Linked DNA regions of Homo sapiens. The protein of the gene in region 1 interacts with the protein of each later gene in a biochemical or structural test. Each region holds a gene or a part of one and is shown in the gene's direction. Other genes may lie near its edges.

Region 1 (3,582 bases):
CTCGGGGGGCGAGTGTCTGGGAGCTCCCAATTACAGGAAACTGATGCGCCGCTACAGTATCAGTGAGCTGGACCAGGGTGACAGGGCCTCGCTGACCTCGGATGTCTACCCACATCCTCCCCTGGGCATGCTGCCCAGGGAGGCCAAGGAGGTAGAGGCAAGCCTCCCCATAGCCTTGGGTCCCAAAAGCAGGTCTCTGGAGTCACCGACGCTGGGAGACCCCTCCTACGTCCAGGTTGCCCCAGAGACCAAAGGCCCCAGACAGATGGCCGTGTTCTCACTGCCCGAGGAGGTGTACCGGAAGCCTGCCGAGCTAGACGAGGACAGTGAGAGCAGCAAGTGCTGCTCCATCCGCTACTGCTTCTACTACCGCAAGTGTGACATGGCAGATGATGCCAGTGATGGCAAGGATGAGCTCTCCTACTCTATCCCCATGAAGATCCTGCCTGGCATGAAGCTGGACGAGCAGGTGGTGCCTGTGGTGAGCAGGACCCTGCAGGTGCTGGATGCTGCTACCTGCAGCAGCAGCAGCCCTGAGGCCTCCCGCACTCAGGAGATTGACCTCCGTGTGTCCACCTTCGAGGGGAGCCTGGCCAAGATCAATGCCCTGCGGGCCCATGCCTATGGCCTCCCTGATGGCTTCCTGGCTGCCCGGCTGGACACCAACGAGCTGCTGACAGTCCTGCGGCAGTGTGTGGCCAGCCCCGAGGCCCGTGCCCCCAAGCCCTATGTGTCTCAGATCTCCGAGTATAAGCTTGAGCTAGCTCTCAAGTTCAAGGAGCTCCGGGCCTCCTGCCGCCGTGTGGCCAATGTGGACAAGAGCCCAACTCACATGCTGGCAGCCATCACGGGCAGCTTCCAGGTGCTGAGCAGCCTCATTGAGACCTTCGTGCGGCTGGTGTTCATTGTGCGCTCCGAGGCCCAGCGCCAAGAGCTGCTGGCCAAGGTAGAAGAGGTGGTGAGGAACTACACCTTCCTGCTGCGTGCAGCTGAGGAGTCCACAGCCCGTAACCTTAACCAGCAGCAGCAGCAACAACAACAGCAGCAGCAGCAACAACAACAGCAGCAGCAACAACAACAGCAGCAGCAGCAGCAGCAGGTGGCAGCAGCTGCAGGGGCAGCCACAGAGCATCCACCAGGCTCCCCAACTTCGGCGACTGTTATGAGCACATTCACCCACTCCTTAAAAACCCTTATTAAGTAGGGCATCTGCCCACACCTGTCCCCCTTCCCCAACCATGGCCCCAGGTTTGAGCTTTGTGGTCCTTGCATCTTGTGGTGAGTGTGTGTGTGTCTGCTGGGCCAGTCAGGGTCCAAGAGCCCATCAGTCTCCGGGGAGTGGAAACTCTCTTGATTGAGGCTCTCTCTTAAGGGCTGCAGGCTTAGCTGCCGCCCTGGGTGTCCTCACCCCTTCCCTGGCCTCTGGGCCTCACTGTGAGGGCAAAGGCCCCTCTTCACTCTGCTCACAGCAGAGCTGTATTTTATCTCTTCTCTGGGGCTGAGAGGTGACATCAGGCTCACTTCCTGCTCAATCCGTGTTGGGCGCTGGGGGAGCCAGGGCCTGAAGCAAGCGGACCCTCAGGCTTTGAGCTCCTCGTGGCATCGGCTCCCCTGCTGGGAGCAGTGGCAGTAGCAGCAGGCCACATTGCCGTGCCGAGGGGAGAGGGCGCTCAGTCCAGATGTCCCCATCCACCTTGGGCTCACACTCACCTGGTAGATGCCACCCTGAGGGCCTGTGCCTGGGTGAGATGTCTGCAGAAAACAGCCACACTAGGCTGTTTGCAGCGGCCCAACTGGCCGGCAGCCTGGTGAGCCCTCACCTCCAGGTCCAGTAGCTCCACACCAGCCATCCCCAAAGTGCCCTGCCCCTCACTGATGGGCAGGGCAGCTCAGTCCACTAGGGAGCAAGCATCTGGGATCACCCCACTCATTTTGGGTAAGGTACCTGATGAAAACGTCTGCCTGGGGAGACCCAGTGCAGGCCTAGGAGCCCGCCTAGCCCGGCCCAGCCCAGCTCAGGGGCTGTTGCTGCAGGCATGAGGCTTCTCTCTCAACATCTCTCTACCAGACAGACTGTCCTTGGGAGTTTGACTTAGCTGTGGATCGGGGAGGGGGGTGGGGGGAGGGGGGAAAGGGGTAGGGGTGGGGGGTGTTGATGACTATATCTTAAACTTCTGGAAGCTAGCGTGATATGTTAATCCTGAGTATATGCTTTTGGCTGTGTATTGACCCTGTGGATTTGTCTCTCTAAGAAAAGAAGCTGAGCGCCTTACCCGGTGCAGTCCTGCACCTTTCTCCCTCTCTGGAGCCATCTGGAAGGGAATTCACACTGTTTAACATCCACCTTGACACACACCTCCTATTGCCACCACCGCTGCCACCACCACCGCCACCACCGCTGCCAACCCTCCCCCCACGCCCCCCACCCCCGCAACCTTCCTGGGAGTGAAGACACGGAGTCCCTACCAACTGTCCCACTGTAGGGAACAAAGAAAGCCAATGTTTCTTCTGTATAGATTGCTTCTCGTCCGCCTCTCCATATCTCCCCATTTCCCACACCCTTGTGCCCTGTGTCTGCCTCTGTTTCATCACTGTGTCAGAGGCCCATGTGAAATCTTTCATTCTGATGTGAGTTTTATAAAGATGTACACTGTGCTTAATCCCTGCCCATCCTTGGTAGCCCCTAGTGCAATAAAGTCTCCCTGAGTGGTGAGTTCTCCCGGCAAGGAGGAGGGGAGTTTCTTCTGCAGAATCCAGCCCCTCACTTCCTTGCTTCTCCTCCCCCAGGACCAAGTTGTTGAATGGGCCAGAGATGCAGCCAGTGGGGAATCCTTTTCCCCTCAGCCACTGCAAGCTGGAGTGCTGATATGGTCTTCTTTTTCTCCCAACTTCGCCACTCAGCCCCTGCCTGTGTCATTCCACCGCCATCCTTCACCTCTCCCTCAGCCTCATGGAGAGGAAACATTTTCTAATGTCTGTATATAGTATATATACTACATAAAATATATAAATTATATATATACTAATTTATGTCTTGTTTTTCAAACAAGAATGATTAAATCTATTCATCTTACTATCCCAATAAGTCTTTGCGGTGCCTCTTTGTGGGTGTCCTTGTGTCCTTGAATTGTTGGTTGGTGGTGGCCCTTTGTGTGCTCATCCTGGGCCCCTGCTCTTATGTACTGGGCACTGGTGGGTGATGAGAGCTAAGGACCCTGTTCCTCCCACCTCCCCAACACACAGGGGATCCCCTTTGCTCCTCTTTGAAGCCTACTGTTTCTCATGGGAGTTGGAAATTGTCTACCTCTTTCTCTTGACCACGAGGCTTCTGGCTCACCTGGCCCCCATGGCTGTGACCTCAGAGCTGAAGGGCTGGAGGTGGTGTGGGGGGTTGTGTGGAGAAACACAGTGTGCTCTGTGCCTAGTGTATCAGATGGCCTGGGAATTAGGATTTTAGGCCACTCCTCAGACTGGGGTTGGGAAATGGGGCCTCTCCCTCTGAACTGTGCCTTCTTGCTCTCAGAGTGCAGCCTGACTGCCTCGCAGTTTAGGCTATGGAATCCCTTGCAACAGCCTCTGGCC
Region 2 (4,571 bases), about 57 Mb from region 1:
CAAGCCAGCCAAGATTGAGAAGGTAGGGGAGTGCTTTCAATGGAGGCCATAGTTGTCATCTTTTCTTCTGAGCAGGCTCTAGGACAAACAATGAGCAAATTGAGATGTCCTGTATTGGGAGGATGAGGCTGATATGTTTCATCATTCTCAGAATTTGTGGGCTAGAGCACCTTTTTGGGAATATGGGCCTAGGGAAAAGAACGGTCACTTACCTGGACACTATGGCCATAGTCTTGAGTTTTTCTAGTCAGCATGTGATTGGTTGTACCTTAAGTTTATGACACCAAAAATACTATTAACTCTGTTATTTTTGTTCTTAATCCCATCTCAAATTAGTTTCTAGAGTTAGAATCAGAACACAAGGATGCTCATTTTCACATGGAGGGAAAGTTGCCAAAGCATTTAAAAAATAACCCCAAAAGTATATCTAGCAGTGAAGCTTGGTAGATAAAGGTGAACTGCTAAACAGACACTGGCGTGCCACACTCCTGCCAGGGCAGTCTCATTGTGTGTGACGGTGCTGCAACACTGCCAGTATTACTTGAGATGCAGTCTCTCTCCCCTGTTCTCAGTTCCTGGGCTCAGCCCTCCTCCAAGGCCTGCCAGTGAGTAGCAGTTTGGAAGGCAGGCCAAGGGAGATCCCCAAAGACAGTTATCAGTCTTAACTTCTGCTGTCTCCCGTCAAATACTTATACAGGCCCCCATGGGTAATAGGCAAGCATGATGGCTGATAGAGAAGTCAGTGCATGAGTTACTATCACATGTCCCCCCAACCCCTCCTGCCACCTCCCAGGGCTCTGGATAATTGAATCTTCCTGAGTCCCACAGCTGGAGACTCAACCAGGATATAGCTGTAAATGCCCAAGTAGAATCTGACAGAATAAGACAGAGACACTGAAAATAAAGCCCTAGAAAGGAAGAAATTGGAAGCAAAGAAAAGGAGAGGTGAAAAGATAAAAAGCCTCCTTCAAGGTTAGGTTCAGGTTCTGTTTTCCATTTAACCTCATGTGCCATAAAGCTGCCCAGGCACACCAGAGCCACATCCTGAACCCGACCCTCCCTGACAGTGCTGCTCTGCCAGTAGCAAGCCCCAGATGGAGGAAGCTGGGCCCATTTCTGGCCACTTCCACCCATTTGGAGCTTTGCCAGAGGAGTCGTCTATGCCAATAATATTTCTGCAACAGCATATTATATTATTTGAAGATTAGTAGATCTTTTTGGGGGGGTGGGGCAGGGGACAGTTTCTATAGATGAAGAACCAGTGTTGGTTGTACAGCTGTTGGGGGTCATCTATCCCATGTGAAGCTATTCTTTTTCCAAATCTTGTTGTTTCTGCATTTGTGTCCTCCACCACTCCCTTCTTGGCTGACATAGATATGCCTGCCAGATTGTCATCAAGGGTCATATTTCAATAAAAGGTGCTAAGGACAAAAAAAAATCTCATGTGTTTTAACTCAGGTGATGGAAGTCTAAAGATTCTGCTGAAAAGTACTGGAAAGGAATTTGGTCACCTATCCATAGTCCTTCACAGATAAACATATGACCAGACCCTTACCCACATCCCTAAACCCTTACCCTGGCCTCTGAGGGATGGTATTGATGCTATACCATTCATCATCCCCAGTTAAATAGCAGGATCTGCCATAGCCTTTTTAGGGGAACAGCTTTTAGACATCTATTTCAAGACCATCCTGAGTAGGGGGTACAGAGTTTAAGCCATTGGTTATTTCTGTTGTTATCACAGTATTGAAGCATGGTATTTTTCTACTCAGAAGGATCTCAGGATCACAGCCCTGCCCTTTAGCTCACTGATATATTTCTTCCTCTCTGGTTACTCAGTGGCAACATCACATCCAGTCTAACCCCATGTTTAGAATGCAGAAAAAGTCAACAATAGGTGTAATCTCAGGTATAGACCTAAGCAGTATACAGAGTCTAGTTCTGGAGTCTAGCCTGATCGAAGGTAAGCCATTCTTTCTAGACTTCTTCCAATCTTGAATTCTGTCTAGTATTTTCATCTTACTTCTAGCTGATAGTCCAATCTCACACCTTCATGCTCAGCTCCCTGGAAAGCAAGGGCCTTGGTGATCTGCTCTCCAAGGCAACCTCAAAGATTAGACTCAAATGTATTCCAGGAAGCAACTCTGACATTGAAAAGCTTTCTTTTTTCGTGATCCATATTCTGTTCACATTCCAACTATCCTCCTTCTACTCAAGATATCCATTGTGGTAGAGTAGAAAGAGTCCAGCTTTGGCATTAGAATGAACTGTGTTCAAATCCTGGTTCTGCCACTTATTCAATGAACCTGGGCTACTAGCTCAACTTCTGAGGTCATTTTCTTATCTGTAAAATGGGAACAGTATTATCTTGCTTGCAGTTATTGTAACTTGAAAATAATAAATAAAAGCCACTAACAATCCAAGAAGTTATTAGGCAGAATCCCAGGCCCACCCCAAACCCAGTGATAGCAGTCTGAATTTTAACTAGATTTCCAGGAGATTCATGAACATATTACAGCATGGGAAGTACTGACTTGTTGAAAACATATTCAGTACATGGTAACCATTATTATAGTCCTGATCTACTCAATTCATTTTTTCCTTATCCCAGGCATATTCTTGCTCTTCTCGTGTTGCTCACAACTACCTGCCTGGATGAATTTAGGAAAGTTGCAGGATACAAGGTTAAAACACAAGATCAAATGAACAATCCGAAAATGTTATTAAGAAAACAGTTCCGGCCGGGCATGGTGGCTCACGCCTGAAATCCCAGCACTTTGGGAGGCCGAGGCAGGTGGATCACGAGGTCAGGAGATCAAGACCATCCTGGCTAACACGGTGAAACCCTATCTCTACTAAAAATACAAAAAATTAGCCAGGTGTGGTGGCACGCACCAGTAGTCCCAGCTACTCGGGAGGCTGAGGCAGGAGAATTGCTTGAACCTGGAAGGCAGAGATTGCAGTGAGCTGAGACCACACCACTGCACTCCATCCTGGGCAACAGAGTGAGACTTTGTCTCAAAAAGAAAGAAAGAAAGAAAGAAAGAAAGAAAGAAAGAAAAGAAAGAAAGAAAGAAAGAAAGAAAACAGTTCCATTTACAATAGCATCAAAAAGAAAAAAGTACTTAGGAATAATTTAACAAAAGAAGTGCGAAACTTTTACACTGAAAACTATAAAACATTGTTGAAAGAGATTAGAGAAGATCAAAATAAATGGAAAGACACTCCATGTTCATGGATTGGAAGACTTAGTATTGTTAAGATGAAATGTGCCCCAAATTGATCTACAGATTCAATCCAGTGCTTATCAGAATTCCAGTGGCTTCCTTGTGTAAGTTTACAAGCTGATTCTAAAATTCATATGGAATTACAAGGGACCTGGAACAGTCAAAACAATCTTTAAAAAGAACAGTTGGAGGGCTCATACATCCCAACTTCAAAACTTACTGCAAAACTACAGTAATCAAGACAGTGTGGTACAGACACAAGGGTAGGTGTATAAATAAATGGAATTAAATTGAGAGTCCAGAAATAAATCCTCATGTATATGGTTAGTTAATTTCAACAAGGGTCCCAAGAGAAATTGAGGAGAGAATAGTTTTTTAACAAATGATGCTGAGACAACTGGGTATCTACATGGGAAAAAATGAAGTTTTCCTTAAATCACATGCAAGAATCAACTCAAAATGGATTATAGAATGTAAGAGTCAAAATTATAAAATTCTTAGAAGAAAACATTGTAATAAGTCTTCCTAATGTTAAGACGATTTGCACAAGTGATACAAGAAATAGAAATAAATTGGAGTAAATCAAAATTAAAAACTTTTGTGCTAAAAATATACCATATAAAAAAGTGAAAAGACAAGCAACATAATATTAGGAGAAAATATTTGCATATCAGATACTTCAAAATATGAAAAGGACTCTTACAACTCAATGATAAAAATAACCAATTAAAAATGGGTTAACAGATTGTAATAGACATTTCTTCAAAGAAAATATGTGTTTTAGTATGCTTGGGTTGCTATAACATACTACCATAGACTGATTGTCTTAAATAACATTTATTTCTCACAGTCCTGGAGACTGGGAAATCTGAGAGCAAGATGCCAGCAGATTCAATGCCTTGTGAGGGCCCACTTTATGGTTTGCAGATGGCTACCTTGTGGCTGTGTCCTCAGCAAAGACAGAAAGGGATCTGGTCTCGGCCAGGCGCGGTGGCTCACGCCTGTAATCCCAGCACTTTGGGAGGCCGTGGCGGGCGGATCAGGAGGTCAGGAGATCGCAACCATCCTGGCTAACACGGTGAAACCCCATCTCTACTAAAAAAAATACAAAAAAATTAGCAGGGCATGGTGGCAGGTGCCTGTAGTCCCAGCTAGTCGGGAGGCTGAGGCAGGAGAATGGCGTGAACCCAGGAGGCGGAGCTTGCAGTGAGCAGAGATTGAGCCACTGCACTCCAGCCTGGGTGACTGAGCGAGATTCTGTCTCAAAAAAAAGAAAGGGATCTGGTCTCTTCCCCTTCTTATAAGGGCATTATAATTTCATTATGAATGCCTACTCTTGTGACT
Region 3 (4,571 bases), on another chromosome or scaffold:
CGCCCGGCCTCAACTTGTATTCTTAAGACATATGTTGATAAAGTTTTTTCAATACAAAGGAATGCAGCCATCTCATCAACTTTTAAATTAAAAGTGTATTTGTTTAGAGGTAAACTCCCACATTTATTCAGAATGGTTGAAAAATGGAATATTCTAGTAAAGTTCATGTTTTTGGATAATGAGGGTTATGAGTCAAAAGATTCTTGCATTTATGGTTAATAAAGTATTAGAAATTTACCATTGATGAGATACATTTTTTCAAACTGTGGCTCAGGGTGTATGAGTGTGCTTGAGGGATGGGGACTGGTGGGACTCAGGCTTTTTATGCCAGATTCAATCCCTGTTGTTCCTTCTGAGGCTTTCAGGAAAACTTTGGTTGGATAATAAGGTTTCTAATGCACCCTGCCTGCCATGTTAAAAACAACTATCAGAAAATAATTTGATTTTTCTAGGTTTATTCAGAAGGCACTTCCAAGATTTAGATGATGAAAATCACTTTTTACCAAAAAAATCTCCAGTTTTTGGTTTGCTTTTTGTAGATTCCTGAATAAAATTTGTTAGTTAAGTATTTGATTATTTGCAATCTAGATGAACAGAAGTGAGCCAAAGACCCTTTCCAGCTAGATTTATTTCAGTATAAGTTAACAATACAGTTTTTTTTTAAATCAATCAGGTCTCTCATGGTTTGTAACAGTGCAACCAACTCTAGTAACTGAAAATTTTTATAGCCGATGACTTCACTAGGACTTGTCTAGACAGCAGCTACCCTCTAAAGTCACATCATGTTAGGGCTGGAAGAGATCTAACGAAGATACTGTAATTTAGAAGTCCTAAATGTTCTGTTTGCCATTGTAGCCATGGTTTTAGGGTTTGAGGGACAGTGAGACCAATGACTTCAGCATGGAAAGTGGGAAACTGATAGGCATAAATATGGGGAAAGGCCTAACCTTGGTTTGGGATGCAAATGTAAACATACAAAAGTATTCTCTGGAAACATCAGCAAATTTGAAAGGAATTTGATGTCTGGTTATGTTTGTCAAGATGGAGAGACTCCTGGAGATTATACCTAGAGAAAGTAGTTGCAGTCAGTAAATTTGTAGCCTTTTGGATAGACTCTTCTTAGCAATGTAATGCTAGCTTTTATAAAATAATGCTTGTATTATTTGTTTCTGCTAATGAAATCCATATGCTGTGAAACAGTTACTTGTCTGTGGGATTTGGATTGGATCTACATGGTTCCCCAACCTTCAGCATTTTAGTCAACAAAGTAGTCAAATAGATTGACTTTTTTGTTTTTTTGTTTTTTTTGAGACAGCGTCTCACTCTGTCACCCAGGCTGGAGTACAGTGTCGTGATCTCTGCTCACTTTAGTCTCAACCTCCCAGGCACAGGGCTCCTCCTGCCTCAGCCTCCCAAGTAGCACCACACCCAACTAATTTTTGTATTTTTTGTAGAGACAGGGTTTCACCATGTTGCAGGCTGGTCTCGAACTTGTGGGCTCCAGTGATCCGCCCACCTCGACCTCCCAAAGTGCTGGGATTATGGACGTGAGCCACCACCCCTGGCCACTGATTGACTTTTTAAAGTAAACTTTCAACTCATTGTTTTGCTTTCCTGTCTGTAAACATAAAACTGCCAGATGCAATTTAATGTAGAGCCTGGACTCTGTAATTCCACAGTTTTACTGGCCTGTAAGTGGCAAAGACCAGAATGTACTTTATAGTCCAGAGGAGTCTGATTGCTTTGATTGATGTAGATTTGGTTTGAGAACCTGAGATAGAAAAAGCCTTGTCTCTGACAAAGTGTTTTGAGAGGGCTTTCTATGATTTGGGTGTTTAAATAATTGCATGGGTGGGATGATTGCAACATTAAGTGCCCTTAGATCAAATAATAGCTGAGCTTCCCATTAACTTTGTGAATGTGAAGTGACTTATGTCTGTAAGACTTTCTTCGGAGAAAGAATACTAATGGTTGCCTGGTGATTTTGACTTGCTGGGAGTAAATACACAGTGCTTTGTATTTGGTGAAAAGTTTTGATGTGAAGTACACTTTGCTCCATGCCTTGTGACAATGAGTGCATGACTCTTGCTTCCCATTCTGACTGTAGGAAGCTGCCCTCTGTCGACAGCTCCCCATGGAAGCTGAGACTCTTGCCCCAGTTCAGGCTGCTGTCAACCCACCCACGATGACCCCAGACATGAGATCCATCACTAATAATAGCTCAGATCCTTTCCTCAATGGGTAAGTTAATATTTGGGGGCCACTTATTTTTATTCTCTTTATTATGTGATCTAGACTATAATAGGATCTTTGTTTACATTGGGAAGAGGTGGGGAGCTTGAGGGTTGAGGGTGAGAATAAAGGGAGGAAGTGGGAGGAGCTGGCAGAAAAAAGAAAAGCAGGGGAAATCATCTGCCTGTTAAAAAATTTCCAAATTAAAAAATTGGTGATAGGACGTAGAGTAAACCCCTAGTCAAGAATTTGAAAATGGGCATGAACTTATATTTTTAAACATGATGGTGTCGTCTAGTACTTATACTTGGAAGAATCTTCTGGTTTTATGTAACCAACAGGGGATAAAAGCATGCCATATGGCAAATTGAGAACAGAACAATTAAGAGATTATGTTCGGCCAGGCATGGTGGCTCATGCCTATAATCCCAGCACTTTGGGAGGCCGAGGTGGGCAGATCACCTGAGGTTGGGAGTTCGAGACCAGCCTGACCAACATGGAGAAACCCTGTCTCTTCTAAAAATACAAAATTAGCAGGGCATGGTGGTGCATGCCTGTAATCCCAGCTACTCGGGAGGCTGAGAATTGCTTGAACCTGGGAGGCGGAGGTTGCAGTGAGCCGAGATTGCACCATTGCACTCCAGCCTTGGCAACAAGAGTGAAACTCCATCTCAAAAAAAAAAAAAAGAAAGAAAAGAAAAGAGATGATGTTCAGGGTGAAATGTGAATAAGATCTATAGTTTAGTAAATAATATTCTACAGTGTCAGATTTCTGATTTTGGTAATTGCACTATGGTTATGTAAGATGTTATCACTGGGGAAGCTGGTGAAGGGTACATGGGAACGCTCTGTACTCTTGTTGCGTCTTCTATGTGAGTTTAAAATAATTTCACAATTTAAAAAGTAATTAAAACAAAGGAGCAAAAGGGAAAGAGAATTTAGCCAGAAATATCTTCATGAGCAGAAGTAGTTTTTAAATCAAATAAAAAGGGCAATTCTGTATTTCCTGTGCCTTTTATTCTGCCCTTGCAGAGACGTCTGGCAAACAAACAATACAATTATGAACATTATTAAAGATAGAGATAAAAACAAATAGTAGCTGAAATAATAATTAATGGAGGTTTTAAATTGTTGATTTTAAAGTATTTGAAACACAGAGAAGTACAAAGAATAACATGAATTACCCATGTACCCACTACCCAGATTTGCCATAGTTTTATTTAATCTTACTTTTTAACAAATAAAATATTACAATTAATATTTGAAGCCATCCCCCCACCACTGAAATCTCGTTTCTTTTCCCTTCTGTCCCCAGTGGTAGCCACTATTCAGAAACTGGCGTGTGTCCATCACACAGACTTTTATACCCCTTACTGCCCGTTAGTGTATGTATCCATAAGCAATATTCAACATAGTTTTTGTTTTTTTTTTTTAAAGTTTTACATAAATGGTGTCATACTCTGTATGTTGAAGAATGTTCAAATGGTTATTTTGAGGTGAAAAGGAAATCAATGTCAATTTACTGTGAATGGCCACACATGATTATTTTCATTTTCATGAGGGTATGTATTTCAAAATTAAAACTTTCCTTCCTCCCTAACCTGGAAAGTTGGGCAGCATGGCACAACTGCACTAGTTTAGAGCTTTTGTGACTGTGTTTTAATTTTGAGATTTATTTAGTGGGCTCATATTGAAGTTTCTTCATCTTTTGCTTTGCAGAGGGCCATATCATTCGAGGGAGCAGAGCACTGACAGTGGCCTGGGGTTAGGGTGCTACAGTGTCCCCACAACTCCGGAGGACTTCCTCAGCAATGTGGATGAGATGGATACAGGTAGGAGCAAAGCCTGCAAGCACTTACAATGGGTTTGTGTTTTTTAAATGATCTCTTCGGTTATCTCAATTTTATTTTTCTTTTATTTTATTTTTATAATTTCAACTTTTATTTTATATTTGGGGGTACATGTGCAGGTTTGCTACATGGTTATGTGATGCCGGGGTTTGGGATACGATTGCTCTCGTCACCCAGGTAGTGAGCATAGTACCCAATAGTTTGTTTTTCACCCCTTGTTCCTCCCCACTCCCAGTAGTCCCGAGTGTCTGTAAAAATGTTGAAAAAAAAAAAAATGGAATGCTTCATGAATTTACATGTCATTCTCATGCAGGGGCCATGCTAATCATTCCAGTTTTAGTATAGGTGCTGCCAGAGCGAGTACGGTCATCTCAATTTTAAAATCCAACCAGAAACACTCAATCTCAACGACAACATAAAATAACAGCTGAAAAGCCACTGAACCCCCAGGCACTATTAATAAACTGTAGCCCCTTCCTCATAGATTAT
Region 4 (4,571 bases), on another chromosome or scaffold:
TGGGAGGCTGAGGTGGGAGGATCTCTTGAAGCCCAGGTGTTCAAGACCAGCCTGGGCATCATAGCAAGGCCCCGTTTCTATTTAAAAGAAAGGTAAATTTGATTTAGACTTAGGAGATATGGAAACCACTGAAAATCGTTGGTCCTTGATAATCCGTATTTTATGGGGTATTCCTTCTCTTCACTCCATTTTTGGTAACAATTTCCTCGTCGGTAAAATGGATAATAGCTGTCTGAGGTTTTGTGGATTAAGTGAAAGTACATTATTTAGTGTAATGCCTAATGTTAGTCCTCTTTATAGCATATTTTATACAATTTCTATTATTTAACAGGCCTTGGGAATTCAAAGATGAAATGTGTGTCCCTCAAGTAACTCACTAATCTATTGTTATAAGTAGATTGTAATTCATGAGTGCTGTAACAGCTATCCTATGACAGCACTGAAGAGGATGTGGACTTCCTAGATGAATATGTATTGAGTTGTAGGGGAGTAAGAATTCACCTACCAGTGAACTAGTGGACCTGAAGTGGTATTCCAGATTGACCTACTGTCATATGAGTAGCACACCTGGTAAGACAACATGTGCAGCTCTTTGTTCAGTGTGCTGGGAACCAGGGGACTGAGGAGGGGGTAAGGAATGATTACTGGCATTTAGAAGCTCATGGTTTGTGAGGGTAGTGAGGAGACCAAGAGTTCTGTTAAAGACTGATGTTCATTTTCCTGGCTTGAGATGGCTGGGAAGCTGAATTACACAGTGGTGATGGATTAGAAATATTGCAGGAGTAGAATCTGCTGGACAGGCTGGCTGAATGTGTGCACGTTTTATATCTCATTATAGTAAAACTGTGTTTGAATCATACCAGTGCAGCCTAATTATGGCACAGGATGATCATGGATATTTCATAGTTCATAGGAAAAAATCCAAGTTGTTGAATATAGTTTTCTTGATTTTTAAGGTTTCTCACACTATTTTTTTCCCTTAAACATTAATGTCTTCTACTACATGTACATTCTGGGAATCTAGTTTGAAATATCTGGTTAATCATATAGTTAAACTAGGCCAGGTGCTGTGGCTCATGCCTCTAATCCTAGCACTTTAGGAGGCTGAGGCGGGTGGATCACTTGAGGTCAGGAGTTCAACACCAGCCTGGCCAACATAGTGAAACCCTATCTCTACTAAAAATACAAAAAATTAGCCAGGTGCCTGTATTCCCAGCTACTCGGGGAGACTGAGACAGGAGAATCACTTGAACCCTGGAGGCAGAGGTTGCAGTGAGCCGAGATTGTGCCATTGCACTCCAGCCTGGGTAACAAGAGCGAAACCCCATCTCAAAAAAACAAAACCCAAAACACCATCATGTAGTTGTACTAAATATATTTCTTAATCTGTAATGATAATGTGATTTCCAAGCATTTCATCATTTGGAAGAGTTGGAGAACTTCTGAATTTAAGCAGGCAAAAATGAACTTATTTATATAAAAACTCAAAATTGACTTGTGACGACACAATGTAATGATGGCATTGAGTCTTTGAGAACAGTTTTTTACTCCTTTATACCATTTTTTGTTTAGATAAATTAATTGATGTTGGTAAATTAGGAGAAGCAATCTGTAGTACATATAATTGATCTTGTAACTTTATCAGAGCTAGAATATATATTTATGTATTTATATAGTTAAAACTATGTTCAAGTGATTATGTCAGTCATTGTAGGAAGAAAAATAAGTTTATTGCCGCATTATTTTGACTTCTAGAATTTTTATCTTTTCAGGAAAAAAAAAAACCACCCTTGTTTTCACATGCAAAATCGCCACTACCTACTGAATTTTAAGAAGCGTGTGTTTCTTGCTGTATTCAGCTGTTTCCTTTTTCCCTCCAGTCTGTGAAAGAATTTACCCTTGGTGCGGTGGTGGTGGGTTTATTGGTTTTTGTGGAGGAAACAACTTGGTCCTTGGATTTTAAGTTGTCCTGGCTCCACCTCTTCTGTGCTTTCATATCCATTATGTATAAGAAGTGTTTTGGGAGAGTTAGTGTCAGTGACTTGAAGAGGAACTTTGTTTTGTCATTGGAACTAAACTTGTCTTCCGCTGGCTGTTGTTTCTCATTGCTTGCCTTCCACAGGTTGAAAATAATGGACTGTGGAGCTTTAGAATTAAAATAAGTGAATAAAAATGTACATTTCGCTGCCATTTGCAGTTTAGTTGACAAACCGACACAGTGTAATATCTGCCCCTTGGCACCTTTCTGTTCTTCTCTAGCTCATGGTATTTGTTTTCACCCAACATAAAAACGGAGAAGAAAGGTAGAGAACACTGAACGAGAATTAATCATTAGGTCATTCTGGGGAGGTCTGATAGTAACTTTCTTAGAAGCCAACAATCAGTGGATCTGAGAGGTTTATGGTACTATGGTGATTATCTGATTTCTCCTGAAAATTCATTCTAGAGTTAAGACTCATTATCTTTTAAAATGTATTTTATTTTTTAATGACCAGTCTTCAGTGGAATCATTATCTTTCTTAAACTTTTTAGCTTAAGATAAATGTAGATTCACATACAATTGTAGGAAATAATGGGGAGAGATCCTGTGTGTACCCTTTAACCGGTTTCTCCCATTAGTAATAGCTTATAAAACTGTAGTGTAATATCACAATCAGGATATTGACATCAGTGCAATCAAGAAACAAAGCAATTCCAGCACCACAAATGGTTCTTGTTGGACTTTTATAGCCACAGTCACTCCCCCACCCCACCTCTGGGGATCACTAATCTGTTCCATTTCTATAACTTTGTCATTTCAAAAATGTTATTAATTGGAATCGTACAGTATATGGCCTTTGGAGATTGACTCCCCTCCCCCTGCGCAGCATCATTAAGGCTTATTACCTTTTGGTTAAAATGAATTTCTGTTGTTAGTGAATAGTTTGGCCTTGTGCTTCTAAAATACCAATAATGTCTGAGGATTGGGGGGTTGGTGGTAAAAGGTGAGATGGGTTTAATAGTGACAATGAAGAGAAAGTTCTGTGATAATGCGTATAAATATAGAGCAAAGAGCATAAGGTCTTGGATGAGCAAGAGTTGTGATAGCATACCACATTTGGGAGATTTTGATATATGTATTTCCTTTTCATATTTTTTTTTTGTCATAATGGAAGTAGTAAGGTTAGCCTTAGCCTTCATATTCTCCAACTGAAATTTAAAAAATAAAATCAGAAGGAAGTCTAATGACTGTATATACAAAAGGGAGTCCCAATGGCCAAATTTGGGACAGTTTGAGAAGCAAATCATGACAGTAACGGACTATAACCCCTAGGGAAGAAAGTATCCATGAGCCCATACTGATATAAGTAAGTAGTTGAATAAATAAATAAAAGCAGGAGAAGAGACACCTCTTTGTTATAGAATTCTAATTAGAAAATGAAGGAATGATGGAAATAGAAAATCACCAGCAGGTAAACACCATAGTAGCAATTGTTACAGGCAGGAATCATCAATGGATGCCAAAATTAGTGGGTGAAGGTATGATGAAAAATATCATCATAGATCAGTATCATCAGGATATTTGCATAGTCTCAAAATATCTCCCCCACAAAATTAATTAACTATAAAGGAAAAAATCAATACTTAATAGTGAAGAAAACTGGTAATATCAAATTAACCAGATCATCAAAGTTAATATCATTAGTAATAAGACATGTCAACATCATGTGTCTGCTGATATAATGTATTGAGAAAGAGATATCTCTGGTATTCTTAACTAAAAATCAACCTAAGTGGAGCAAATATCAGATAGACTCAAATTTAAGGACATTTTACAAAATAACTGGCCAGTATTCCCTGAAAGTATTGAGGGTGTGGAAGATGAAGAAATGCCCAAGAACTGCCACACATTGGAAGAAACTAAGGACATGTGATAACCAAATGTAATGTAGGATTCTGGAATTGATCCTGGACAAGAACAACAACAAAAAAACATTATTAGGATGACTGATGAAATTTGAATATTTAGATAACTTTACCACAATTATTGTAGATGCTAAATTACGGGAAGCTGGGTAAACAGGGGATCTTTGACCCGTTTTTTAAATAACCTTTTTTACTCTAAAATTATTTAAAAATTCAAAGTTAAAAAAAGGAAGCATAGCTTTTGAAGTTTTTTTTGTGAACCTGAAAAGGGGATACCAAATTATTACTTTTTAAGACATCTTTTAGGCTGGGCATGGTGGCTCACTCCTGTAATCCCTGCACTTTGGAAGACTGAGGCGGGTGGATCACCTGAAGTCGGGAATTCGAGTTGAGCCTGGCCAACATGGCGAAACCCCTTCTCTACTACATATACAAAAAATTAGCCAGGAGTGGTGGCGCATGCTTGTAATTCCAGCTACTTGGGAGGCTGAGGCAAGAGAATCACTTGAACCCAGGAGGTGGAGGTTGCAGTGAGCCGAGATTGCACCATTGCCCTCTAGCCTGGGTGACGGATGAGACTCTGTCTCAAAAAAAAAAAAAAAAAAAAAGTATCTTTTTTTCCAGTTTAATAATTTACTCTTAATGAAGAGCCTAGTACCTTTTAA
Region 5 (4,571 bases), on another chromosome or scaffold:
TAACATTGCCATTTAAAATACAGCCTATTTACAAACTTTAGCCAGTACACATCCAATTTCATCCTGTCCATGTAACTATTTAGTAAATTATATATGCCTTTAGTTGGCTGTTACATCATGATCCTTCTGTAAAATCCTGAAGGTTAAATGTTTTAAGCCAATTATTCTTTCCAACAAAGCATTTGCACTTAGAAAACAAAATTGATTCTTTCTTCAATTGTAAGTTTTGAAAAATATCTTCTTAAACTCTTCTTTAGTTCACTTTGGAGGTAGCTATTCATAATAACAGCTTGAAGTAACTGATTTTTTATGACACTGCAGATTTTAAAGCCTCCCCTGATAGTAGGAAATCTAGATATAAAGATGTGGTTGTTGGCTCTGAATTTGCTTGCTGAAGATCACATATTTTGGGTATACTGTAAAAATGTTGAAAAAATACAGAGGAGCTCCTGGGGGCCGTATTCTGTATTTACCTTGTGATTTAGGTTTGCTTGAAATACCCTCATAAACATAAATAGTGATATATGCTTTAATGTTTTTATGTTTAGGAAAGAGGTGAAATTAGATTCTGAGAATACTTTTACCAGGAAAAATTCCCCAAACATATATAAGTTTTTCCTTACCTTTTCTAGTACATTCACAACCTTCTTCATCTGCACTGGGATGGTGATCTGGAAATGTGAATCATAGAAAATGGCAGGCAATAGAGGTGTGACTGGCATACGCACTGTCAAAATTACTAAACCTGTGTTGTCTGGAACATCTAAGATGGAATCAAGTTACATAAAGTTTAGTTAAATTCAGGAAGGATTTGTTCACCTCTATGCATTAGATGTCATATTGAAATAGTATGTGAAAAGGAAAATCTTGCCTGGACTCACAATTTTTATTTACTGTTATAATGTCATCTATGCTGTTCAATTATAGTATTATTTGAAAGGAATACATGAAAAAAATAATAGGCACAGTTTGTATTGTTAAAAAAACAGTCTGTTAAGTGGTGAAATACCATGATATGCCAAATAAAATAATAACTCTAAGAAAATTGTCTTAAAATTAAAGGTGCTTCTATTTTTAATAGAAAAGGCTTGAAACCAACCCAAATGCCCATCAGTAATAGACTGGACAAAGAAAATGTGACAAGTACACACCATGGAATACTATGCAGCCATAAAAAAGGACGAGTTCATTTCTTTGCATGGACACGGATGAAGCTGGAAACCATCGTTGTCAGCAAACTAACACAGGAACACAAAACCAAACGTTGCATGTTCTCACTCATAAGTGGGAGTTGAATAATGAGAACACCTCAGCACAGGGAGGGGAACATCACACACCCGGGCCTGTTGAGGGGTGGAGGGCTAGGGGAGGGATAGCATTAGGAGAAATACCTAATGTAGATAACGGGTTGATGGGTGCAGCAAACCACCATGGCACATGTATACCTGTGTAACAAACCTTCACGTTCTGCACATGTATCCCAGAACTTAAAGTAAAATTTAAAAAAAAAAGTGCTTATTGTCACTTCTATATCATAGACTGAAGTAGTTATTTTGAACTAACAGAAAACACATGTGGATTAAATTTTATCACTGTTAACTGATTTTTTCTAAGCAGTCACCTCTTAATGGGAACCAAATTATTAAGTAACATAAGTACAGACTGTCTATATATATATGTCTTTTTCAGACATTGGTCAAAAATTTATAAACAGAACTACATGAAAAAATTTCAGCCTAATTATGTCACATAGTGAAATTATAGCATATTTTATGGGTCTTATTTTTAAAAATTTATTAAGTACGTGTTAAATAATGGCCTATGATGCATTAAATTACTTAATTGCTAATAAATTCTAACTTAAAATGTAAATTGTTACGTAGCATATTTGAAACATTTTTTGGTTCAAATAAAAATATGTCTGGACTATAAAATATGACTATCAGGTTTTCAGATTATGAAACTATTATACTAGCTTAGTGTTTTTAATGCCAACCAACTGAAGAAAACATGATTCGGGTGTTTTTTTCTATGTATTCATAGCAACAATAACACAATGAGTTCGATGCTGCCATCAATACTAATGTTACTAATTCTCATGGTATTTTACTCAGTGGATTTGAATGTGGCCATAGAATCTTTCTCCACACAATATGCCAGACAGCCACGTATAATCCCATGAGATTTGGTATTCAATATAAAACTTTACTTTTTTACTCAAGTTATATATATTGCCACCACCAGCAGTTTTTCAGCTAATAAAGTATACTTATGATTTAAGTCACTTGGTTAATGTCCTCATCCCTAAAGAATATGTTAAAACGAATGCTTAACTTATAGTAGAAGAGATTTTCAATGGCAGTAATGAAATTTCCAAAAATGAAATTTAATCATGCCTCATGCACTTCTGTAGTATATGTAAGTTTTATTTATATATCTTAACGTAAGCATTTAAGTTATTAAGTTATGACTAGTTAAAAGGAAATAGTAGCATAGTTAATTGTGTTTTTGTATGTCCACAGTACAGAATTAAGAATAACTATTTTGGCCAGGTGCGGTGGCTCACGCCTGTAATCCCAGCACTTTGGGAGGCTGAGACAGGCGGATCACGAGGTCAGGAGATCGAGAACATCCTGGCTAACACGGTGAAACCCCATCTCTACTAAAAATACAAAAAATTAGCCGGGCGTTGTGGCGGGCGCCTGTAGTCCCAGCTACTTGGAAGGCTAAGGCAGGAGAATGGCGTGAACCCAGGAGGCGGAGCTTGCAGTGAGCCGAGATCGCGCCACTGCACTCCAGCCTGGGTGACAGAGCAGAGCGAGACTCCGTCTCCAAAAAAAAAAAAAAAAAAAAAAAAAGAATAACTATTTTATTGTGTCAGTTGACAAAAATAGTACCGTGTCAGAGATAAAAATGTGCCGTGGTGGGGTATTAACATTGCTTCTACCATTAAGAACATAAACAAAAACAACCTTATTCCAATATTCTAGATACTGAGGGGGTTATTTTTGTGGAATTGATTCCAAAGACAGGGATGCTTGATCAAAGAAGATGTTTAGTTTTTGGCTAATAAATGTTGCCTGATTGAGTTCCACAAATTCTGTAACAATTTACATTTTCAGCATCAATCAATGAGTGTCCTTTTCTAGAACTCCAGGCAGCAGTACATATTATACTTATAAAACGTTCTGCTTGTATTACGTAAATAGCTAATATTTGTTGTGTTGACTTCTTATTAAATGTTTCTTCCCAGCCTTTCAAATCAGGCACTACTCTTTATGTGTACTAGGTCATTTATTTCTTATAACAATGCTTCAGTTTGCAAATGAAAAAATCAGAGACACATGGAGAAGTAACTTCCCTGGGCCACCAGCTTGGCCTATTTCCAGGTCCAGTGCTCTTCACTGTGGCATAGCTGGCTGAGAGTGAAGTGCTGTCTCTGTGTTCAAGTTCTCTAACTAAGAAGTTTCAGCTTACATCTAGGCAACATTTTAAGGCTTGATTGCTTGTATATAAAGGAAAAAGCCTATTGGCATAATGTTTCTATCTTTTTGTTTACTTATTCCTTGATGACACTGTCATATGTTCTGGAGACTTAAAAATTACATTGGTAAAAAATAAAGAAATATATTTGAAATAAAGAGAGGAATGCAGCTCTTTCAATGGTAGCACATTAAATCATAATATATATGTCATTTTTGTTCTTCTTCACAATAAGGTACTTTTGCAGTGTAGTTCTATCATTTGAGTACTATTGAAATACATGTAATAGTCATGTAGTGAAAACATTTATTTAAAGCTATGTAAAATATTTCTTAAAATGCTTTGTCAGGTATACATAAAAGCTGTCTTTAAATCAGTTCTCAGGAAATGTTGAAGTCTGTATCGAAAACTGTAAATATGATTGCTATTACTAAAGTTAAAAGATGGTAATTGTTTAATCTATAAGCACAGTTTTGAGTATTCATTTCATACAATAGCTAATCCATGAAGCTTTTCTTGAGAGTGCTGTTGAGAAAATAACTTTTTCCTTTGCTTTCATGGCAGTGGGAAAATATTTGTCTTTAAAATATTTGCCAGTCCTAATGCTTAAATATTTCTTGTATCCATCCGCTGCTCTCCATTCCTATCACAGCTTCTATAGTTAAGATTTTCAGCATTTCCCTCCAGGCATTAATTTAGTAGCCTCCTGGTATGTCTCCCGGATTCTAATCTTCCCCCTCTAGCTTATCATCTATATCTATGCCAGAAATACTTTCCCAAAACACAAATCTTGTTATAGTACTGCATTTCTCTAGTTCTTCCCTGTCTCTTAAATTTAGTCTCCTCCTAACCCAACATTTGCACCCTATAATCTAACCGACCATACTGAGATCTTTGCAGTTTCTCTAACACAACATGCTGTTTCGAATCATATTTCTCTTATACCTTGTTACATTTTGTCCCCTCCTTTCATTTTTCCTGTTTTATCTATGCTGTTTTAGAGGAAACTCATTTACGGTCCAAGCCTCAGAATCTTGGAGCAGACTGATGTATCAACACCTCCCTGTGGCAATTTGCTCTAATCACAG
Region 6 (5,264 bases), on another chromosome or scaffold:
CGGAGCAGCTACCCAGCACCAGGCCCCTGCCCTCCCCAGACATCGCTTACTTTAACGGACCACCACAACTCCATGAAGCAAACCTCCCATTTAGAGTGAGGACCCTGAGGCACCACAGTCATTCAGGTCACCCCTGGGGAGCATCTTGTCACTGCCCGCAGCCCCCTTCAATCTGGACCTGGTGCCTCCCTCAAAAAGGGAGGAGTGTGGGAGAGAGACCACAGGGGCCAGCACCACACAGTTTCAAGCGGAAAGCCCTTCCTGCTGTTTCCTGGCTGGGGGTCTATTACCTCCCTCTGCCGTGGTCTCCTTACTGTTAGGAGGCCTGCTGCCTGCAACAGTGGCCCACATGCTTAAATTAATGCACTGGTCACAGGGTGCCCATTGCGGCCCCAGTAGGATGGAGGAGGCTCCCCTCAATCCTACTGTCTTGTCATTGTGGTAGAAGAATCTGAGCTCAGGACTTACTTCTCTGCCACTGTCCTAGACCCCATTTGGTCTTGGGACCCACAGGTCGTCCAGGAAGCAGGTCTGTGTGTGCTCGGATCCACGTGGCTCTGACCCTCCCAGCACAGAGAGCCTGAGGGTCCCAGTGTGCACCACCACAGGTCAAGCAGTGCCCACCCTTGACCCTCAGATGGCAGACCACTCCCCCATCTCTGGCCAGAGCTGCAGGCCATACCAGAGGCCTACGCCCTGGGCGGGCACACAGGGCTGCCATTGTCTGCTCAGCGCCTGGCACCCTCTCGTTTGCATAGCCACGTGAAGAATGCAAGAGCGGGCTGGGGACTTGTCCCTTCAGAGGGGGGTTGGGGCTGTGGGGGAGGAAGCCAGCAGGGGTCTGCAGCAGGACCCTGCCTTCCCCCAGTGCAGTCCAGGAAGGGTGGGTGGGCTGTTGGGGACGGAGGGGGCGGCGGGGGGCTGGCAGGAGTGGAAGCAGGGTTGTGACATTCCTTCTGCACCCACGCTGCAGTGGGGCCCACTTGAACGTGAGGGGATTGCTAATGAGGTGGAAGAGAGTTAAACATTCCCCTACTCCTGAAGACCAAGAGAGACTGGGAGAGAGAAGAGGGAGGTGGGGGTGCTCGGAGCGGGCAGCCTGAACCCCGGGAATGTGCAGAGGCCACTGCTCCGCGCCAGGCTGCTCTAGAGTTGGGGGCCAGGGCCCAGTGTTCCAGTCCCAGCAGGAGCTACTAAGCCAGCCAGCAAGGGGATTAAGGGGCTGAGCAATCCGCCTTCCTTCAGGCTGATGCCAGAAGGTTGGGGCTGTCTCCCCAGCTCCCCACCAGGCCCCTTGCTGGCCGGCAGCCAGCGCTGGCCCAGCCTCGATAGGGCCCCTTTTCTGTCCCCCTCAGATCTCAAAAAGACCCCACAGTACATATTTCCTGGTCTGGCCTCCCTGATTTTTGGCACACACAGCTCCCAGGTACCCATGACCCCTCTTCCCAACACCCCACCGCTAGCTCAGCCTCCCCACATCCAGCTTCAGAGCCCCTGCCAAAAAGTTATCCTTGACATCTAACTCTAGTTTTACCCGCTGCAAACTGGCATTCCTTTCCCTTCTGTCCTAAAGTCAAAGGGCAGAAAACCCCAAGGGTTAGATCAGCCTTGCAAGAGCAAAGTCCATCCTCCCAGGGCTGGTGTTTGGGTTAGGGATTATCCGAATTTTAGGACACCCGAATCAGGTTCCTAAAGGGGTTTCCCTGTGGGGAAAGGCCCAGAGGGCAGCTGGGTCATTCCTCTCAGCCCCTCCCTTCCCTATCCCTGCGGAACGGGGCGGGGCAGGGACACCACCTGGGCCATGGGCCGGCCCTCCGCCCCCAGGGGGCTGGGCATGAGCTTTGCTGGGGACCCTGCTCTGGCTTAGGCGGCTGCTGTGGGCGGGCCCTGGCCTTTTCCAGCCCCTGGGCCTCCCCCTGCATTCTGGAGTCCAGAGCCACTGCCTTTGCTCCAGCCGCTGCCGCCGCACCACCTCTCCTTCTCTGCCTCTGACCCTCCTTCTCGCTGCTCCCCCTGCCCAGCTGCTCCTCCCACCTGGCCATGACCAAAGCCCCTGCTGGCACCCTGGCCCAGCTCTGAGTCCTGGGACCCTCGGTCCTCTCTCCTGGGCCATGGCCAACTCAGGCCTCCAGCTCCTGGGCTACTTCTTGGCCCTGGGTGGCTGGGTGGGCATCATTGCTAGCACAGCCCTGCCACAGTGGAAGCAGTCTTCCTACGCAGGCGACGCCATCATCACTGCCGTGGGCCTCTATGAAGGGCTCTGGATGTCCTGCGCCTCCCAGAGCACTGGGCAAGTGCAGTGCAAGCTCTACGACTCGCTGCTCGCCCTGGACGGTAGGCCCCAGGCCGGCGGGGTGGGAGATGGGAGGTGGGAACAGCAGGGGAGTCTGGAGCAAGTTTTCCTCACAGTCTGCTATCTGCGCTGGGCTCCAACCTCCAGCCTCCGCTCTACAATTCCCCCACTACTGCCCTGTGCCCATTGACGGTCCAGGCCAGCCTGCTGCCCTGTGGGAGGGGAGGGCTCTAGGGTCTGGCGGCTGTGGGTCCAGATTCCTGCTCTGTCACTATAACTTTGAACTAGTCACCAAACCTCTTCCCATTGTGATGTTCTCATCTCTAAAGGGGAATACTAATACCTGTGGCACTCTGAAAGACTCAGTTAAGACCCTTCATCCACTTCTCCCCACAGTCAGTAGACAGACACACACTGTATGATGCACACCTGCTCCCTAGTCCTGCTCCCAGGCCTGTGTGCCAGCATATGGGTGCATGCACATGCATGCAAACACGCATGCACACGCACACACGTGCACATGCATGCACAGACAGGTGTGTCTGCATGCAGTCCCTCTCCTTCTGGGGTGTGGAGATGAGCCTGACAGGCACCGCCGAAGTTCTAACTCTGGGGTGGAGGTGATCCACCTGCAATCTGCCCAGGAGCCCCCAGGGACAATCTGCTCCCCATGGGAGCTGGGAGCAGAGCGGCCTTCAACCAGCCCCATTGTGCCAGTTCAGGCAGGTCAGTTCAGGCAGGTCATCTAGCCTCGCTGAGGGACCCAGGTCTCCTGAGCACCCCCCAGGGCCCAGGATGGACCCATGCACCCGTGAAGAGGCAAGCTTCCAGCTGCCATGGGCAGAGGGGAAAGTGACTGTTGTCTGAATGGCTGCTGGGGAGGGGTTGCTGCGGGGCTCAGGCTGAGTTGAGCTGGGCCTCAGATACCCCCAGCTCTTCCACCTACCAAACCTGAGGGGACCCTGGAGCTGCCCTCAGCTGCTTGGGAGGATGGGCCAAGCCCAAGAGGGAGTCCCCAGGCCAGAAAGCAACAGCAGAGTGAATCATACTACCGGAAAAGCCTGCAAGGGCGAGTGGAGAATGGCGTTGACAGTGAAGGGGACTCTCACCCCCACACCCTGTCCTCATGCCCGGGCTGTCACTCCTCACTATCCTGCACCTGCCAGAAGGTGGTCTGACCCCCCAGGCCAGCTCCTGCTCAAGCCCCTCTCAAGCTGGGCTCCTTCCACCGACCCCAGGCACCGACCCAACCCCCATCCCCGCCAGCCCGACTCAGTGTCATCCCGCCCACCCTAGGTCACATCCAATCAGCGCGGGCCCTGATGGTGGTGGCCGTGCTCCTGGGCTTCGTGGCCATGGTCCTCAGCGTAGTTGGCATGAAGTGTACGCGGGTGGGAGACAGCAACCCCATTGCCAAGGGCCGTGTTGCCATCGCCGGGGGAGCCCTCTTCATCCTGGCAGGTGAGTGCCCCTCACTCCTGCACAATCACAACCATGGCAGGCAGCCCCAGCCCCAGTGGCCTCGGGGGGCCAGAGCAGAGCTGAGCGCCCCTCTGCTTTGTCTTTAGGCCTCTGCACTTTGACTGCTGTCTCGTGGTATGCCACCCTGGTGACCCAGGAGTTCTTCAACCCAAGCACACCTGTCAATGCCAGGTGGGTGCCAGGGCTTGGGTCTTTTGCTTTACCTCCTCTGGGGCCACTGACCTTTGTCCACTGGATCACCTGGCGGGGGAAGTGGGGACAGGATCCAGCTGCTGTCCAAGAAGCTTTAAAGGGGGGCGCCAGGAGGAGTGTGGTGGGGCCCTCCATAGGGGCGGGAGGCCTGTGATGGGCACCCAGGTGCAGCAAGGACTCTCTAAGGACCTAAGTGCCCTGGCTCTGGGTTTCAATCCCAGCTCTGGCTGGGTGCAGTGGCTCACGCCTGTAATCCCAGCACTTTGGGAAGCCAAGATGGGTGGATCACCTGAGGTCAGGAGTTCAAGACCAGCCTGGCCAACATGGTGAAACCCCGTCTCTATTAAAAATACAAAAAATATCTGGGCATGGTGGCGGGCGCCTGTAATCTCAGCTACTCGGGAGGCAGAGGCAGGAGAATAGCTTGAACCCGGGAGGCAAAAGTTGCAATGAGCCGAGATTGCGCCACTGCACTCCAGTCTGGGTGACAGAGTGAGATTTTGTCTCAAAAAAATCAAACGATCAATCAATCCCAGCTTTGCATGCACTGTGTCACCTGGGCAAGTTACTTAATCTTTCTGTGCCTAGTTTCCTCCTCTGTGAAATGGAGCTAGAACCTGAGCACCAGTTCACACATGGTTGTCAGGATCCAGCAGGATGCAGGTGAGGGTGTGGCACCGTGCCCGGGCCCTGGACAGTACCCAGCAAGCCTGAGCTGTTTTCATTTCTGCTGGTGGCAGCAGGGCTGAGATGACTTCCTGCAGGAGGCAGCAGTTATTCTGGGCCAGGAAGAAACTTGAGAATAAGGGCAGATCGTGGAGGGCCTTGCAACCACAGGAAGATTTTGTTCCTCATTTGGGTGGAGGCAGCGGCAGTCCTTCTGGCTGTGATGTGCAGAATGGTGGGGAGGGAGTGACACCAGGAAGGCGGCTGTCCCAAAGGTCTGAGCAGAGAGTTTGGGGCAACAGGGAGGGAGCAGTGGAAAGCAGGCTGATATTCAGGAGATAACCAGGACTTGTAAGACTGTGGGCATGGGAACTGAAGGGGATGCTCTGCAAAGGGCCTGGGCCCACCTTGGCTCCTCCCTCACTTCTCAGCCTAGCCAGGAGCAGAGAATGGGACAGTCTTAACCCTAGACATCCCAATGGGCTTTGGGCCTTGGGGTGGAGAGAGGATGAGAAAAGATGTCTGGGCTTTTGCAATCGGGAGGGATGCCTGGAGGAGGCAGAGGTGTTGAGAGGCAAGGGGAGGGAGGAGATCTCAGGTACAAGGTTTGTTCCCTGGGTGGTGGCTGCAG
Region 7 (4,571 bases), on another chromosome or scaffold:
GGTATGCGTTATATGTATTCTGTTCAGGCTGATGCATGATAAATCTCTCACTGAAAAAACAGAAATCCCTATCTCATTTTAAAATTTTAAAAAATTGGCCGGGCACAGTGGCTCATGCCTGTAATCCCAGCACTTTGGGAGGCCGAGGTGGGCAGATCACTGGAGGTCAGGAGTTCAACACCAGCCTGACCAACATGGTGAAACCCCATCTTTACTAAAAATACCAAAATTAGCCTGGTGTGGTGGCACATGCCTGTAATCCCAGCTACTTGTGAGGGTGAGGGAGGAGAATCGCTTGAACCTGGGAGGCGAGGGTTGCAGTGAGCCGAAATTGCGCCATTGCACTCCAGCCTAGCCTGGGCACAAAAGCAAAACTCTGTCTCAAATAAATAATCAATCATTCTAACCTTAAGCAAAATTGGAAAAATGTTGCAACTAATACCTGTATCTCTTTACCTAGTTTTAGTGATTATTAATATTTTGCCACATTTGTTCTATCGTGACATTGCACACCAAAGTATGGCAGTAGGTATCTCACAGAATAAGGGCATTCTACCTGACAGCAATCAAATGATCACCCACAGGAAGTTTAACTTTACAATTCTGTCTGGTCCCTATTCAGATTTTCCCAATTTTCTCAAAATTTTTTTTAAAGTTGTATTTGTTCTTTCACTCAATTGCTGTATCCTGGGTTGCATTTAGTTGTGTCTGAAGTTTCTCTTACATTAGGAGCATTTTCCTGCCCTTTTCTGCTTCTCTCTTGACAATGACATTTTGAAATAGTCCAGTCTAGTTGTTTTTGCAGACTGAAATTTGCATTTTTTGGGTCTTGTCTGTATGATTAGGTTCAGGTTGACCCTTTTTGGCAGGAGTATCCCATAGGTGATGATGTGTTTGTCTTCAGTATTCCCTCCCCACAGCATTTTGAAGTAAATTAACCGAAAGGTTATCCAATATTCTTACTTCTACACTGACTTGGTGTTTCTTTCATTTTAGGAAATGCCAAACAATTGGTTTAAACCGAGATGTAATTTTAAATATTTGAGGTTACAGTAATTACAGGTCTTTGTATTTAAATCGATCAGCCATAATGATTACTGCTTTTATGAAGATTTATGCCAAAGGTAGCTCCCTTACTGTGGGACATAAAAGTTGCTTGTTTTCAGCTTTGACCAGTGATGAACTGATAACCCTGGTAGGAAAATGAAACATTGGGGCTGGGCTTGTAATACGCTTTCTTAAAAGAATGCCCCATTGAAATTAGAGTGGCACGGTGCCACCAGACCAAGGGTTCTCATCCCGATGCCACAGAGGGACCACAGGTGTTATGAAGTGGTTTGCAAAATTGAATGTATGCCAAAATAAAATAATAAAAATAAAAATAAAACCCCACAACAAAAGCAGATATGGTCTTTAGTGCTCATTAGATCTCAAAGGGTCATTACTCCTCAAAGATTAAGAAACTGCTTCTTTATGAGGAGGTTGTCAGAGGAGCTGAATAGTATCAATAAGAGGAAGATGTTTGAGATTCAAAAGGAAGTAATATTCGACTAAGGCATAGCTTCTTTCCATCTTAAAAAAAAGCCACCCATGAAAATAAATATAGTTTAAATTTCCTATTTAAGATGTCTTATTTTAAAAATGATTTGCATACTCTGTGTGTTTGAGTTGGCTATGAAGGAGAAATCCTAGCATTTCCACTCTTGTAACTAGGGAAAAGCATTTTGAATTTTTAGCAGTAGTATATTATGTGATGATGACTCAGCTGACTTCCCGTTTCAAATGGAATGTTCAAAACAGATTGAAACCTGGTTGAAGAATTTTATACTTTGAACCTTACAAGATATTTTCTGCAAACAGTGACTGATTGGATTTTGTATAATAACAAACAAGATTAAGCCAACTCAGTTGTTTTGCTGTTCTTATTAGTGGTTTTCAGTCAGGGAGCACTTATTGAGCAGTTTGCTGCAATAATATTGAATATTTTTAGAGTTATGACGTCTGTGTTTTGTTGACTTTGGTCCCTTCTTTCTCCCATTCTTTTGAAGTTTCCCTAAAACATGTGTGCACAGACGGGAGAGAATGGTAGTTAAGTGTGTGCTGATTTTAAATGTCCTTTTAAATATCATTTATTCCTTGATAATTGACTGTATAACTGATGTAAGAGAAATATGTTTTATATGTTATTCCACTTGTGAATCTCTTTGCAATGTGAGGCATATAGTGAAAATCTTACAAAGATAGGGTCATAAAATGTGCATTCTCTACACTGCTGCAGGTTAATCGTCCTCGAGCCACGTTTCTGAGGCCTGTCAGTCACTATTTCTTAGAAACCTTTGTTGGCTCCTTCCCAGTGACTCTGGAATTAAAGCCCAGACTCTTGTTTTTTGCTCAGCTTATCAATTTAGCACTGTCCCTTCCACCTTTTGCCCTGTCCCTAACTCTTCCTTCTCTGAATGTACCTTTCAGTTTCTCTCAACTTTTAAATAACAGCTTTATTCAGATAAAATTCCCATATGATAAAATTCACCCTTTTAAAGTCCACAAAGTGTATGATTTAATGGTTTTTAGTATATTCACAGAGTTGTGCAATCAGCACCACTGTCTAATTCTAGAATTTTCACCCCTTCACCCAAAAACCCCATAATAGCAGCCACTCCCCATTTGTCCCTTCCACCCAGCCTCTGGCAACCACTAATCTACTTTCTATTATAACTCTATGGACTTACCTATTTTCGTTTAAGTGGAATCATACTATATGATACTTTTGTACGTGACTTGTCTTATTTAGTGTAGTGTTTTCAAGGTTCGTCCATCATGTCGCATATATCCTTTATTCCTTTTTATGGGCAAATAAATTTCATTGTATGGCTATTGCCCATTTTGTTTGTCCGTTCATCAGTTAATGGGCATTTGGGCTGTTCTAACTTTGGGGCTATTATGAATAATATTGCTATGAACATTCATGTACAAATGTTTGTGTGGACATATATTTTCAATTCTATTGGTTATATACCTAGGGGTGGAATTGCTGGGTTATATGGTAACTTTGTTTAACTTTTGTTTGTGTTGTTTTGTTTTGTTTTTGAGACGGACTCCCTCTGTTGCCCAGGCTGACGTTCAGTGGTGCAATCTCAGCTCACTGCAACCTCCCACCTTCCAGGCTCAAGCCATCCTCTCACCACTGCCTCCCAGGTAGCTGGGACTGCAGGTGCATGCCACCACGCCTGGCTAATTTTTTCTATATTTTGTAGAGATGGGGTTTCACTGTGTTGCTCAGGCTCTGTTTAACTTTTTGAGGAACTGCCCGACTGTTTGCAAAGCAGCTGCACAGTTCTACATTCTCATCAGCAATGTATGGAGGCACTAGGTTCTCCACATCCTTTCCATTGCCAGCATTTGTTAGGGTTCTTGTTTCTGATTTTAGCCATCCTAATAGATGTAAAGTGGTATCTCATTATGGTTTTGATTTACATTTTCCTAATGGCTAATGATGATTAGCATCTTTTCATGTCCTTATTGGCCATTCGTATATCTGATCTGAGAAGTGGCCATTCAGATTCTTCTCCCATCTTTAAATTAGGTGATATTTTTTGTCATTGAAAAAGGTCTTTATATAGCTTAGATACAAGTCCCTTATTAGATATATGATTTACAGGTATTTTTTCCTATTTTGTGGCTTTTCCTTTCACTTTTTTTTTTTTTTTTTTGAGACAGAGTCTTGCTCTGTCGCCCAGGCTGGAGTGCAGTGGCATGATCTCAGCTCACTGCAAACTCCACCTGCCAGGTTCAAGCGTTTCTCCTCCCTCAGCCTCCTGAGTAGCTGGGATTACAGGCACCCACTACTATGCCCAACTAATTTTTGTATTTTTAATAGAGACAGAATTTCACCATGTTGGCCAGGCCAGCCTTGAACTCCTGACCTCAAATGATCCACCCGCCTCTGCCTCCCAAAGTGCTAGGATTACAGGCATGAGCCACCGCATGCAGCCTCTTTTCACTTTCTTGATGAAGTCCCTTGAGCACAAAAATTTAAAATTTTGTAAATCTAGTTTACCAGTATTTTTTTCTGTTACTTGTGTTGTTGGCAACAAATCCAAGGTCACAAAGATTTACTTGTATTCTAATAATTTTATAGTTTTAGTTCTTAATGTTTAGTTCTGTAATTCATTTTGAGTTAAGTTTTGCATATGGCATGAGGGCTCCAATGTCATTCTTGTTATGTAACTATCCAGTAATTCCAGCTTCATTTGTTGAAAAGACTTTCATCTTGGCACCCTGTTGAAGGTCACTTGATCATAAAATGAAGAATTATTTCTGGACTCTCAATTCTATTCTGTTGATACTATGTGTTCATCATTATGCCACTTCCACACTGTCTTGATTACTTCAGCTTTGTTGTAATAAGTTTGGAATCAGTATGAGCCTTCCTTCAAGATTGCATTGGCTGGATAACCAGAGACTAATTATTAAAAAAAAATTTTTTTAAAGATTGCATTGACTATTCTGGTTGCATTTCTATGTGAATTTTTGGATCAGCTTGTCAATTTCAGCAAAAAGGCAGCTGAGAT

Evidence for each region.
Region 2: the proteins of FRMPD3 (region 1) and SHROOM4 interact in a test that uses a peptide from one of them, tested with the Homo sapiens proteins (one large-scale study listed by IntAct).
Region 3: the proteins of FRMPD3 (region 1) and WWTR1 interact in a test that uses a peptide from one of them, tested with the Homo sapiens proteins (one large-scale study listed by IntAct).
Region 4: the proteins of FRMPD3 (region 1) and RAPGEF2 interact in a test that uses a peptide from one of them, tested with the Homo sapiens proteins (one large-scale study listed by IntAct).
Region 5: the proteins of FRMPD3 (region 1) and CNTNAP2 interact in a test that uses a peptide from one of them, tested with the Homo sapiens proteins (one large-scale study listed by IntAct).
Region 6: the proteins of FRMPD3 (region 1) and CLDN19 interact in a test that uses a peptide from one of them, tested with the Homo sapiens proteins (one large-scale study listed by IntAct).
Region 7: the proteins of FRMPD3 (region 1) and TNRC6A interact in a test that uses a peptide from one of them, tested with the Homo sapiens proteins (one large-scale study listed by IntAct).

The regions. Positions count from the first base shown.
Region 1 is NC_000023.11:107,602,170-107,605,751, forward strand, and holds the end of FRMPD3 (FERM and PDZ domain-containing protein 3), read left to right. Parts: coding exon 1-1,204; 3' UTR 1,205-3,082; downstream 3,083-3,582.
Region 2 is NC_000023.11:50,590,185-50,594,755, reverse strand, and holds part of SHROOM4 (protein Shroom4), read left to right. Parts: 3' UTR 1-4,571. UniProt on the Homo sapiens protein: Probable regulator of cytoskeletal architecture that plays an important role in development. May regulate cellular and cytoskeletal architecture by modulating the spatial distribution of myosin II.
Region 3 is NC_000003.12:149,525,506-149,530,076, reverse strand, and holds part of WWTR1 (WW domain-containing transcription regulator protein 1), read left to right. Parts: intron 1-2,107; coding exon 2,108-2,241; intron 2,242-3,951; coding exon 3,952-4,064; intron 4,065-4,571. UniProt on the Homo sapiens protein: Transcriptional coactivator which acts as a downstream regulatory target in the Hippo signaling pathway that plays a pivotal role in organ size control and tumor suppression by restricting proliferation and promoting apoptosis.
Region 4 is NC_000004.12:159,109,248-159,113,818, forward strand, and holds part of RAPGEF2 (rap guanine nucleotide exchange factor 2), read left to right. Parts: intron 1-4,571. UniProt on the Homo sapiens protein: Functions as a guanine nucleotide exchange factor (GEF), which activates Rap and Ras family of small GTPases by exchanging bound GDP for free GTP in a cAMP-dependent manner.
Region 5 is NC_000007.14:146,122,749-146,127,319, forward strand, and holds part of CNTNAP2 (contactin-associated protein-like 2 precursor), read left to right. Parts: intron 1-4,571. UniProt on the Homo sapiens protein: Required for gap junction formation. Required, with CNTNAP1, for radial and longitudinal organization of myelinated axons.
Region 6 is NC_000001.11:42,736,911-42,742,174, reverse strand, and holds the start of CLDN19 (claudin-19), read left to right. Parts: upstream 1-1,938; 5' UTR 1,939-2,111; coding exon 2,112-2,334; intron 2,335-3,589; coding exon 3,590-3,754; intron 3,755-3,861; coding exon 3,862-3,946; intron 3,947-5,264. UniProt on the Homo sapiens protein: Forms paracellular channels: coassembles with CLDN16 into tight junction strands with cation-selective channels through the strands, conveying epithelial permeability in a process known as paracellular tight junction permeability.
Region 7 is NC_000016.10:24,735,787-24,740,357, forward strand, and holds part of TNRC6A (trinucleotide repeat-containing gene 6A protein), read left to right. Parts: intron 1-4,571.